Linked DNA regions of Homo sapiens: regions 1 and 3 are each linked to region 2. The links come from fine-mapping of genetic effects on gene expression. A gene starts in region 2. Each other region holds a variant in brackets. All regions are shown on one strand. Distances are between the middles of the regions. Region 1 has its middle 26 kb from the start of MMD2. Region 2 holds the start of RBAK (RB associated KRAB zinc finger). Region 3 overlaps RBAK-RBAKDN (RBAK-RBAKDN readthrough).

The links. PIP is the estimated chance that this variant, and not a neighbour inherited with it, causes the effect. A credible set is the group of variants that fine-mapping cannot tell apart.
Region 1: its variant is the best candidate, but not a certain one, in a credible set for the expression of RBAK in nucleus accumbens (GTEx, PIP 0.53).
Region 3: its variant is the best candidate, but not a certain one, in a credible set for the expression of RBAK in whole blood (TOPMed, PIP 0.54).

The regions. Positions count from the first base shown.
Region 1 is chr7:4,982,745-4,986,984 of GRCh38, forward strand. It overlaps the pseudogene RNF216P1. Among named protein-coding and RNA genes, the nearest start is that of MMD2, 26 kb to the left of the region's middle. The variant G/A (reference allele first, on the strand shown) is at 2,165.
Region 2 is chr7:5,044,149-5,048,388 of GRCh38, forward strand. RBAK (RB associated KRAB zinc finger) reads left to right here and starts at 1,712. Exons shown (of 5, transcript NM_021163.4): 1 at 1,712-2,248; 2 at 3,885-3,943. The coding sequence starts at 3,929. RBAK-RBAKDN (RBAK-RBAKDN readthrough) reads left to right here and starts at 1,712. Exons shown (of 6, transcript NM_001204513.3): 1 at 1,712-1,810; 2 at 3,885-3,943. The coding sequence starts at 3,929. RefSeq lists a silencer at 1,852-2,061 and an enhancer at 2,212-2,321.
Region 3 is chr7:5,064,906-5,069,145 of GRCh38, forward strand. The region is part of intron 4 of RBAK-RBAKDN (RBAK-RBAKDN readthrough); the gene reads left to right. RBAK (RB associated KRAB zinc finger) reads left to right here. Exons shown (of 5, transcript NM_021163.4): 5 at 1-4,240. The coding sequence ends at 696. Among named protein-coding and RNA genes, the nearest start is that of RBAKDN, 5.0 kb to the right of the region's middle. The variant T/C (reference allele first, on the strand shown) is at 1,686.

The DNA.
Region 1 (4,240 bases), 61 kb before region 2:
GTATAGCACCTAGGAGGTCATCTTAGAAATCTACTGGAGCAAGAGAAAGAACAGAGAAAAGGGGAAGTCCCCATTACCCTCCGAGCAAAGAAGCTTCCTTGCTACTGAATGTGGCTAGAGCTGTACCCCACCCACTCTGTCTGCACTACTGTGCAGTCGTTCCAAGGTGGTTGTCTGATTTGACTGTGAAGAGCCTGGATAGTTAACATCTGTTGGGTCTGGGTGGTGATACATCAGTGTGTGTTATCTCACTCTATATAGCCTTACTTTGGAAGTATTTCATGCTGATAATAGACAAAGCTAGTGGGTTTGGTGTGAAGAGAGTCTGTTCATAGGAAAACATGATCTGTTCATCAGTCTAGCTTAGCAGCTAGCTAAATAAATGAAGTGTAACTCAATGGCTCATAGAGCTTTATATTACCATAGAGATTTATGTTACCACAGGGGTATAAAAAGTATTAATGAATTAACAGAAGGTCTTTTATATTTCATTTATTTATTACATCTCTTAGCAGACTGTTTTTACTGTAAATGTGAACACACAGTTTTCCACTTCTTTCTTGTTCATAGTTTTCTTGACAAAGAGTAGCTACTTTTCTTTCAAATTTTCCAATTTTGTAGTTTAACCAATAATAGTTTCAGTGACTTCAATACATTAACACCCAATTGATACATAAACTTCAGAGGAGTTTGCCTTAATCAGTATGTTCATTGCTTTTTAAATTTTTTATCTTTCACAAAGATAGAAATTCAGTGCAGTTGTTTGTTTATTTGTTTAGTTTTTCTGGGCTACAAACATCTTAATTTCTTGATAGGCCAGTTGTAACGTGTGACTAAGGACTATATTCTTCAGACATTGCATTTGAAGCAATGGGCAGGTGTGGGATTTGGAAGCAGTATGAAAGTAACATCATTTGTTTCTGCAGACTTTGTAATTTTCTTCTGGAAAACCCAGATTATCCAAAGAGAGAAGACAGAATCATTATAAATCCCAGTAGCAGTCTGCTGGCCAGCCAAGATGAGACAAAGGCAAGTGTCATGTTCATGTTTTGCAGTCACTGCCTGGAAATGCTGTGCTTTGTTGTTGTTGTTGTTGTTGTTGTTGTTATCTCTGTGGGAAGAAGGTGCTTTGTTGGGACAAGTTTTTAAAGACTAGCCGAGGGACATAGGATTTCAGAATATATCTATACTTCAGTGCGATCTCCCAGTCTGAGCCACTTTGAATTCTGTCTTTAACTTCTATCTTTCCTTGTAATTCTTATCTTCCTTTTCCCACAAAGAATTGAACGAATCCTCCATATCTGTAATCCTACAAAGCAAATTCCTAAAGCAAAACAAGAATTGGCCAAAACTCTTAACATTTTATTATGAAAATTTTCAAACCTACAGAAAAATTGAAATATTTTACGTTGATCACCTGTATACCTACCACTGGTACTACTAAAAAGTTAACAGTTTACTGTATCCTCTTTATCATACATATGTCCTCTGTCTGTCCATCAGCACATCTTTGTTATGTTTCATTTCATGATAATGCATTTCAAAGTAAATTGCAAAAACATCAGTACACTTCCCTGTAAGTACTTCAGCATGCAGATCATTACCCAGAGTGGAATATCTTTTTTCTTTTGATGTGAGATTTGTATACAGCGTATCCTATACATCTGTTTAACCAGATCTCATATCAAGATGTAAACAGTTTGGTTTTTAAAAACTTTAATCATTGTCATTATTTGTGATCTAAACTGGCATTTAGTTTGTTACATGGTAAAGTATGGTTGAGAACTAACTTTATTAAGATGTGTTGCTTGATCTTCCAACTCCCCATAGATTCTTTGACTATCTCTCTTACGTATTCTATAATAGAAAAAAAATAGTTGTTTGTAAATATGGTATGGAAAGAAGATGGCTGTAAGATTGGTTTAAATCCCCAACTATACTTCTTTACTAGTTATAACTAGTAAAACTAGTCTGCCGGCTCCAGACAGGTTTGTTTAACCTCTCTGAGCCACCATTTTCTCATCTCTCTTATAGGGCTGGTAACTTCCTTATAGAGTAATTAGAACAAATGTTATTCTTTTCTGCACATAAATTCTTAAAATGATTTCCCCTACATGGGAAATGTACTGCCTGGCCTTTGATTTTATGCTTCTGTCTCGTTTCA[G/A]TTGCCTAAAATAAGACTTTTTTGACTATTCTAAATTGACTCCTCTTGACCAGCACTGCTTCATCCAAGCTGCTGACCTCCTCATGGCCGACTTCAAAGTGCTCAGTAGTCAGGACATCATGTGGGCCCTGCACGAGCTCAAAGGACACTATGCAATCACCCGAAAGGTACTCTACTTGGTCTTCCTGTTGGGGTCACACCTCTTGACTACATCTTCACACGGTAACAGAATGAACAGCTTGTGGAAATTGGGATGGTTTATGATTGCTAAGGAATTTATGAGGGTGAAGATAAATAGATGGGTATTTGCTGATCGTGAAGGGCTAAATGAAAAGAAATAATAGATAGATGAGAAGTAGAGAAGTTCTGCTTTGACCGTAAAAACATGGAGGGTAATACATTCTACTGTGGAATGCAGGAGTATGAGAGATGCGTTCTAATCCTGCTCCTTCCTGATTTGCTTTCCGACTTGGGACAGGTCACACAACCATCCATCCCCCAGGTGGCTCAGTTATCAGTGATAGGACGTAAGGTCTGTAGAGAGTCCGGGAACACAGCAGTGCCCCCTCAGAAGAGAATGGGCAGCTACTGACAGCTCCCAGCGTTCTCCCCCCAGGATCCTAAAATAGATGGCACTTAAAGGCCTTGGTTGAGGGTGAGGAGGGTGCTGGTTTGTGGTGGGTAACACAGGCGTCTTCCATGAAGGACAGCACACGGTGCATGCTTTGTAGCTGTGGCCAGAACAGGAGCGCACGCACCAGCAGAGACCTTGGCTTACTCCTCTTGGTCGCTCTTACTGCCATTAAATTCTATTCTACTGAAATTCTTGTGATTCTCAGCAACACAGTGATGTTTCTTTTGTCCAAAGGACAAACGTGGAGTTATCGTAGTGGTTAAAATACTCATTGGGTCTTACCTGTAGGAAGGGAAGAACCAAGCCAAGGACTGTGGCTTATGCTGAGGTCTAGGCCAAGCCCCTTCCACCTTTTTTTTTTTTTTTTTTGAAATGGAGTCTCGCTCTGTCGCCCAGGCTGGAGTGCAATGGCGTGATCTCAGCTCACTGCAGCCTCTGCCTCCCCAGTTCAAGCGATTCTCCTGCCTCAGCCTCCTGAGTAGCTGGGACTATAGATGCTCACCACCACGCCTGGCTGATTTTTGTATTTTTAGTAAAGATGGGGTTTCACCATGTTGGCCAGGCTGGTCAGCAACTCCTGACCTCAGATGATCTGCCTGCCTCAGCGTCCCAAAGTGCTGGGATAACCTCGTGAGCCACTGCACCCGGCCAAAAAAAGACTGAAAGAAAAATAGGCTTTGAAAGGGTAAAACAGGAGGCAACCTAAGGTAGACCAAGGGTCTCCACAAGGGCCTCCCTGAGCAAGGGACATTTAATCACAGACCCACATAGGAGTTTGGTGAAAGGGGTCGTGGAAGATGTTAGTATCATTTATTGGGGTGAGAACTAGTATAAACATCTGCTTTGGAGAGAAATAATCATGAAATCAGTCTGGGAAACGTTGGTTGCCAATGTGCTGAGAAGGGCCTGTGAGACATCTGAGTAAAAATAATTCATTGGGAGGTTGAATGGACTAGAAAGTTTGGAAAATACAGACTGTAGATAGGATTTTTTTTTTAAATCTCCTTGGGTTTTATGGTGATAGGACTTTGAGAGTCATCAGCATATGGAAAATCTCACCAGCCAGGATGAGGTACCCAGAGATACCAGGTGAGAAGAGAGGACTCCTGACATGTAAAGACCAAGCGGAGGAGGCAGGCAGACAGGAAGGAGGAAGTTGAGAGACTGGAGCGTCCGTATTATCATCATCATCATCATCATGGTTATTCTTGTTTAGAAACAGGGTCTCTCTCTGTCACCCAGGCTGGAGTACAGTGGCCCAATCATGGCTTATTGCAACCTTGACCTTCTGGGCTCAAGCCATCCTCCTGCCTCAGCTTCCCATGTAGCTAGGACTGCAGGTGCACGCCACCACACCTAGATGATCTTTCTATTTTATTTTTTGTAGAAATGGGGTCTTGCTAGATAGTGCAGGCTGGTCTTGGAACTCCTGGCGTCAGGCT
Region 2 (4,240 bases):
TTTGGGGGAAATTTGCATTCTGTAGAGAATCTCCTTCCCTTACAGAAAAGAAGTCTTTTCTGGAGATTCTGACACCTTTTAAGATCCAATAAGAGATATTTATCATCTATTCTCTCTGAAGCCTGTTCTGAGGCTTCATCTACATAACAAGAACCTTGGTTTCCACAATGCCCCTTATCTTAACTCAAGCTTTTCTTTTCTTTCCCTCCCTCTTTCTTTTCCTTCCTTCCCTCCTTCCTCTCTCTCTTTTCCTCCCTCTCTTTCTCTCTTTCTTTTCTTCTCTGTTGCCCAAGCTGGAGTGCAGTGGCACCATCATGGCTCACTGTAGCCTCAACTTCCCAGGCTCAAGCAATCCTCCCATCTCAGCCTCCTGAGTAGCTGGGACTACAGGCATGCACCACCACACCTGGATAATTTTTTTTTTTGTAGAGGTGGGGGTCTCGCTGTGTTGCCCAGGCTGTCCTTCAACTCCTGGCCTCAAGGGATCCTCCCAGCTCACCCTCCCAAAATGCTGGGATCACAGGCATGAGCCACCGCAATGGCCCATTTCTTCATGTCGTTTTCCAACTGTTCAGCCAACGCTTAACTCTGAACCAACTGCCAATCTTTGAATCTGCTAGTGACCTGAAAGCCTTTCCAGGCTGACCCAATGTGTACCTCTCATGTATTGATTTATGTCTTTGCCTGTAACTGCTGTCTCCCTAAGATGTATAAAACCAAGCTGTAACCCAACCACTTTGGGCTCACGTTCTCAGGACCCCCTGAGGCTGTGTCACCAGCCATGGTCACTCAAGTAGGAGGCCCAGAATAAAACTCTTGACAGACTTTGAGTCTTTTTGGTCAACATAACCTAACCCTAAACATAATCCTCCTGGGGAAGGTGAGATCACAGGTATCTCTTTTCTTCGTTCGATCTGTGTATTTCCTGATTTCTCTACAGTTTTTAGGCATTCGCTGTGTGATCTAGAAAAGCTACAGAGTCTCGCTCCGTCGCCAGGCTGGAGTCCAGGGGCGCGATCTCGGCTCACTGCAACCTCCACCTCCCGAGTTCAAACTATTCTCCTGCCTCAGCCCCCGAGTAGCTGGGATTACAGGCACACGCCACTACTCCCAGCTAATTTTTGTATTTTTGGTAGAGAAGGGATTTCACCATGTTGGCCAGGATGGTCTCTATCTCTTGACCTCGCGATCCGCCCGCCTCGGCCTCCCAAAGTGCTGGGATTTATAGGCGTGAGCCACCGCGCCCAGCCACAAATTCTATTTTCTTTCTCTTCCTTGGAAAGCATCGCTGGGCATTTATCCTGTCCTAGTATTTGAGTGAAACTTCTCTTAGCATTTCAGCGCAGTGACCACGATACACCCTTTCCTTTCCTTCTCTTTATGGGAAACTCGGTTCTAACCCAGAGGCCTTGGGCTCCAGGACCCAGTCAGGCAGCCCTGGACTTGACCCTAAAAGGGAGTAAAGACAAATGCGAAGTTCAATCAGGGGTTCAGAGCTCCCAAAGCTCATAGCCTGGAGCTTCTTAACCTTTAGGCAGGGTAGAGACATTTAAAACGGCCCCTAAACTTGGGGGGCGCGTAGGCTCATGGGAAATAGAGTAGGGTGCTTGTCCTGGGACCAGCTGTGGGCCCCGGAGGCTGACTTCCGGTGCACTCCTGCGCGTGTGCACCTCTCTCTGTGTGCGTGTTCGCGCATGCGCGCCGCCGCTGCACTGCCCTCGCTTCCTGTGCGTCCTCAGGTCACCGCTTGCTCTAGTTCCCAGGCTTTGGCCTCCAGTGGACGAGAATCGCGGAGCCTGCGGGGCTGGAGGTTGAGCGCCCGGGCCAGCACCTAGGCGGGCGCGGGGGTGTGCAGGCCAGGGTTCGCGCGGGCCGGGTGGAGGCTTGAGCGGGGACCCCCGAGCTTGAGCCCCGGAGCCGGCGGCGCTGGGGCCAGAGGGGCCGGACGGGAGGTGGCGGAGGTGGCGGCGGAGGCGAAGGGGCGGCGGGACGCGGGCCTGGCCCGTGTGTGTCCTGGCGGCCTGGCCCAGGCTGCCGCTGTACGGTGAGCCCGAGGGAGGCGGATCTGGGTCCCGGGAAGGACACCCGCCTGGATTTGCCCCTTAGGCCCGGCCCGGGCCCCTCGGGAGCAGAACAACCTTAGTGAGGTGGACAGGAGGGGACCTCGCGAGCAGACGCGCGCCAGCGACAGCAGCCCCGCCCCGGCCTCTCGGGAGCCGTGGGGCAGAGGCTGCGGAGCCCCAGAAGGGTAGGTCTTGGGTTTTCGGGCCCGGAGCGAGAAGGGCCTGAGTGAAGTCACCGTGTGTTGGGGACCTTAGAGTGTGGGGCAGGGGGAGGGTCTCGATCGCTTGCAGGAGAGACGTGTGTTTGGGTTTGAGGGCAGGGTCCGGCTGCACCGAACAGGCGCTGCATGGGAAATCTGGGAGGACGAGGCTTATGGGGGCCTGGAGGGTGTCACCAGCCTCAGCTGCGGACGTCGTCTCCACTCCCCGCTAACCCCTAACAGCCCTTCCTCCTCCTTTCCGTGCTCCAGATTTCGACCTCCTCTAAACGTCCGTCAGCGCCTCTGTTCTCTCATTTAAGTGTCTGCTGATTCCCCCCTTAGATCTGCCCTGGAGACTGGTAGTAATGCAGGAACAGTCTGCAGGGATTCTCTCTTGCTGCCTCAGTTGCTAGGGGAAGAGACTGGGCCTTAGCAGGTGGGTGACTTGACCGGGTCACTGGCTTTGTGGGTAGAGTTGCTCATAGTAGAACTCAGGAGTCTTATCTCCCAGGCCAGTGTTCTTTCTCCCGTATCCTAGTTTTCTTAATAGAAGATTATTAGGTGCAGCAATAACCAAGTTCAGTTAGATAATTTAGAAACAAAACCATATTTTATACACATTCATTTCATTTCTGAGAGCTCACATACTCAATTCCTATGGCTTCTTTGATTTTAAGCAGTTTAAAGAGACAATAAGAAAATGCGGGCCGGATGCAGTGGCTCACACCTGTAATCCCAGCACTTTGCGGGGGCTAAGGCAAGAGTATCCCTTGAGACCAGGAGTTAGAGACCAGCCTAGGCAACATAGGGAGACCCTGACTCTACAAAAAATACAAAAGTAGCCAGGCATGCTGGGATGCACCTGTGGTCCCAGCTACTCAGGAGGCTGAGGTGGGAGGATCAATGGAGGCCAGGAGGTCGAGGCTGCAGTGAGCTGTGAATGCACCACTGCACTCCAGCCTGGGTGGCAGATTGAGACCCTGTCTCAACAAACAGACAAACCACAAAAAACATGAGCTGTATAATGGGAATTTTTTTTTTCTTTTTGCAGGTTGTATTTGATGATGGCAGACTATTTGTAAAAGGAGTCATGTTACCCATGAGAGTCTCACTCATCTGATTACTACCTGATTATCTTAGAGTTACAAAGTTACAAGTGCATGCTTCGCCTATCACTCTTTTTCACTCTCTTTTTTTTTTTTTTTTTTTTTTTTTTGAGACAGTGTCTCTCACCCAGTCTGGAGTGCAGCAGTGTGGTCTCGGCTCACTGCAACCTCCACCTCCCAGGTTCAAAGGATTCTTGTGCCTCAGCCTCCTGAGTAGCTGGGACTACAGGCATGTGACACTATGCCTGGCTAATTTTTTTGTTATTTTTAAGTAGAGATGGGGTTTCGCCATATTGGCCAAGGAAGGCGGATCACTTGAGGCCAGAATTCGAGACCAGCCTGGCCAACATGGCGAAACCCTGTATCACTCTTTTAGGCCCTTCTGAGTGTTTGCAGGCTGAGTGTTCACAGGGTGTTAGCCTATTGAGCTTTCTTTTGTGGTTCTTACGCAGGAGATTCCTGCCTTTGCAGGCCAGAGCACTCATGACTTCAGTGACCTGCTTCTCCCCCTCTAGGTCTACCAGCCACAGTCTCTGCACGTTTCCAAGAGCAGCAGAAAATGAACACATTGCAGGTGAGTTTTCATGCTTGTGTATATGTTCCTCAACTTTATTTTATGATGCATTTTAAGAGGTTTGTAAGGATTCTTACCTTTTTTTTTTTCTTTTTTTTTGAGATGGAGTCTTGCTCTGTTGCCCAGGCTGGAGTGCAGTGGCATGATCTCGCTTCACTGCAACCTCCACCTCCTGGGTTCAAGCGATTCTCCTGCCTCAGCCTCCCGAGTAGCTGGGATTACAGGCGTGCGCCACCATGCCCAACTAATTTTTTGTATTTTTAGAAGAGACAGGGTTTCACCATGTTGGCCAGGCTG
Region 3 (4,240 bases), 21 kb after region 2:
TCCCATGAATGTAGTGAATGTGGAAAGTTCTCTCAGTTGTATCTCACCGACCATCATACAGCTCATTTAGAAGAGAAACCCTATGAATGTAATGAATGTGGGAAAACCTTCCTTGTAAATTCAGCCTTCGATGGGCACCAGCCACTTCCAAAAGGGGAGAAATCCTATGAATGTAATGTATGTGGAAAGTTATTCAATGAGTTGTCATACTATACTGAACATTATAGAAGTCATTCAGAAGAGAAACCTTATGGATGTAGCGAATGTGGGAAAACCTTTTCCCATAATTCATCCCTCTTCAGACATCAAAGAGTACACACAGGCGAGAAACCCTATGAATGTTACGAATGTGGAAAATTCTTCTCTCAGAAATCATATCTCACTATACATCATCGAATTCATTCAGGAGAGAAACCCTATGAATGTAGTAAATGTGGAAAAGTCTTCTCTCGGATGTCAAACCTCACTGTCCACTACAGAAGCCATTCAGGAGAGAAACCCTATGAATGTAATGAATGTGGGAAAGTCTTTTCTCAGAAGTCATACCTCACTGTACACTATAGAACTCATTCAGGAGAGAAACCCTATGAATGTAACGAGTGTGGGAAAAAATTCCACCACAGATCAGCCTTCAATAGCCATCAGAGAATTCATAGAAGAGGAAATATGAACGTACTTGATGTGGAAAATCTCTGAAGTCAGATCTCAATTTTTAGAAAACTCTCTGAATATAATGAATATGGGGAATCCAATAGGAAGTCAAAGCGTTTATCTGAGAGTTCGTGTTCCTGAACGGTGAGAAGCATTTAGGCATTAGAGTCATTTTAATCCAAATTTTCACAGAGAAGAATCCCGAAGAATGTAACAAGAAGCAAAGCCTTCAGCAAGATCATACGACTCATCGGACACTAATTTATATAGGAGTGAAGTTTTATAAATATTTAATATTTATTTTGGATTCAAATTGTATTTACATATCAGGGAATCATACAAAGGCAAAATCTGTCAATATGGTGAATGTGGAAAATATATTGTCTTGGAAATTTGTTGTAAAAGCCATATTTCTAATGGAAAATCAGGTGTTTACAGGAAAGATCTCAGAGGCTATGAGCTCTGAATAAATCTTCATTGTATAAAATGAAGTTTTTAAATTGTCAGGAGTTGATCATGAGGACAGTAGCATTAAATAAGTATATGGCCGTTTTTTATCATGTCTTAAAAATGCAATCTAATGGTAATTCTATGCAAGTTTGGAATTGGATGACTTGTGAAGAGGCAGTTTTCTTATTTGAGTATTAGGATGGCAAAATGTATTAAGACAGGACATATTGTTGGTGAGATAATATTTAATAGGTATAAAATGGTAAAATACCTAGTTTTCTATTTAGAGGAATTTACAAATGGGTTTTTAACAAATGCCTCATTAGTACAGGAGGCAGTCGTTTTGTAAAGTTTTCAACTGCATCTGAGTAAGATAAGATTTTCTAAAAGACTATTTTGATAAACTATACATACATAATTTGGAATTGTTTAAGTCTATTTCAGTGAAAGAGAACAAGCATACTGCCCATACTCTAAAATATCCCCAGCTCTCACACCACCCTTGTTTTTTAACCCATAGGTTTGAGTGTGCCTAGTGCCAATATTTTGTAATTTAGAAATTTTATTCACAAACTTCTGTTTGG[T/C]ACAAATACAGTGTCATTGTTTTGTGCATTCTCCTTTTTCCCAGTATTTCAGAACAAATTGATTCAAGTTTCTAGCAGATATTTTTTGATCAATTAACTTAATGTCCTCGCTCCATTTCTTGCTGGAACAGTTTAGGTACCTACCACTTCTTCACATGACACAGGGGAATCCTGATTAGTCAAAATAATAATGATTTCATTCTCTTTGCCAGTAACTTGTTTTATAGTGGTCATATGACCTGATACTGGGTAAACAAAACAAAGATGGACTTGTTCTGGGAAAAGGTAAAATGGTAATCAAATAGATTGTGTTCCAGGAATGCAAAGGTGGCTTAATATTCACAAGTCAGTTGCTATTATACACCACCTGTAGAAAAGTAATCTGGCATGCAGAACATTCTTGTGGTACAATTAATGTTCGTTTATGATCTTAGCAAATGATGGATTGAAAGGGACTTACTTAACTGCATAAAGAGACTTAAACTACAACAAACAATATGCTTAATGATGAAATAGTGAACATTTCTCCTAAGATTATAAAAATAAGACAAGGATATCTGCTGTCAATGATTTTATTCGGCATTGTTCAGAAGGACCTAACCAGAAAACTAATGCAAGGAAGAGAAACAAAAGGCATAGAGATTAGAAAAGAAGTAAAACTTTAAAAACGAAAAAGAATATAAATCTCTATTTGCAGATGCCATGAGTAAATTTGGTAAGTTCCCTGCATAAAAGTTATGCAAAAAGCATTTTATGATATACCAGCAAAAAACATGGAAAATGAAATTTTGAAAAGCAATGCCACTTCAAAGATCCCTCAAGTGCCTAGAGGGAGAAAATGAGTTAATATGCTTTGAAGAACTGTATCCAGAAAATAAAATTACAAAGGAGGAGAGGGATAGGATTCCAGGACAATCTCAAAACTATTGCTTTTTCCTAAATTCATTGCAACCTTAAAATCCTAGCAAGTTCTTTAATGTAAATTAACAAGCTAATTCTAGAATTCATATGCATATTCAAAAGTCGAATAATTGTCAAGGCTATCCTGTAGAATGGACAGAGAGGATTGAAATTTCTAAATATCAAGACCTGTTATAAAGCCATAGAAATAATGAAGGTGTTAATTTGGCACAAGGATGAAAAAACTGACTAGTGGAACAGCATACAGATTCAAAAGTAGACCCACGTGTATACCATCACCTGAGTTTTGAGAAAGGTGACATTGAAGTGTAGTGGGGGAAAGGGTGTTCTTTCCAGTAAATGTACTTTGCCAATAAAATTTTGTAATTTGATAAAAAGTTATTTGGAGGTGGATTGCAGATCTGAATATGAAATGTGAAAGCTTTACAAAGAAATCTTAGGACAGTTTGTAATCTTGGAGTAAGCAAAGGTTTATTGAGACCCAAAAAGCATTAACCCATAAAATTAGAACTTAATATTAAATTTGAGAACTTCTATTTATCAGAAAGACCACCAGTAAGAAAATGAACAGGAAATCATGGGGAGGAGAAGATATTTGCAGTTCATGTATGTGACAACAGCACCGAGTATAGCAGAAGTGTTGGCAAACTTTATAAAGCAAGGCACCAGATGGTGAAAATTTTCAGCTTTGTCACAACTGCTCATCTTTGCTATTGTGTGAAAGCATCCATACACCATGCATTAAAAAAAAAATGAGCATGGCTGCTTCCCAGTAAAACCATTCACAATCCCAGGTGGCAGTCTGGATTTGGTCTGCACTCATAGTTTTCTGGTCCCTGATCTCGAATATGTAAAGAGCACCTACAAATCAACAAGGGGGAAACTGGAAAAGGCAAAAGACTTTAGAGGATATCCACTCACTTTAGAGGATATCCAGACGGCCAATAAGCATGAAAAGATGTGTTAGCTTTATTAGTAATCAGGGAAATGCAAACTTAAAACATGTAGCACTGCTACCCATCCATGGAAATGGTTAAAATGAAAAGCATGAAAAAGCATCACGTTTTGGCAAGGATGTAAGCAAGAGGAACTGTACACTACTGGTGGAATTGCTCATCGATAAAACCATTTTGAAAGCTGGCACTAAAAGCCAAGCATATGTATACTGTTTTACCCAAACCCAGCAAAAATGCATGTGTCTGTCCACCAAAGGACATGCACTAGAATATTTATAGCCTAAAACTGCACAAAACAGAACTATCTTAAGGCACATGTGCAATGGAATGAATAAAGAAGTGGCATATGTCCATGGAATACTGTAAAACAGTGAGCATGAATGAACTAGAAGTCCGTGTAATAACGCAGCTGAATTTAACAAACCTTGCTGAATGAAAGACTCCAGACACAAAAGCCAACATGCTGTATGATTCCTTCTATATAAATTATAAAGACGGGCAAAACTTGTATACGTGGTTTAAAATTAGGGTAGCAGTTAGCCTTGGCCAAGGCTGAAAGGGGGCATTTATCTGGTGCTGGGAATAATCTGTTTCTAAACCTAGGTGCTAAGTATTTGAGTGTGTTTTGAGCTGTGCACTTAAGATATGTGTATTTTTCTGCATGTGTGTTAAACTTTC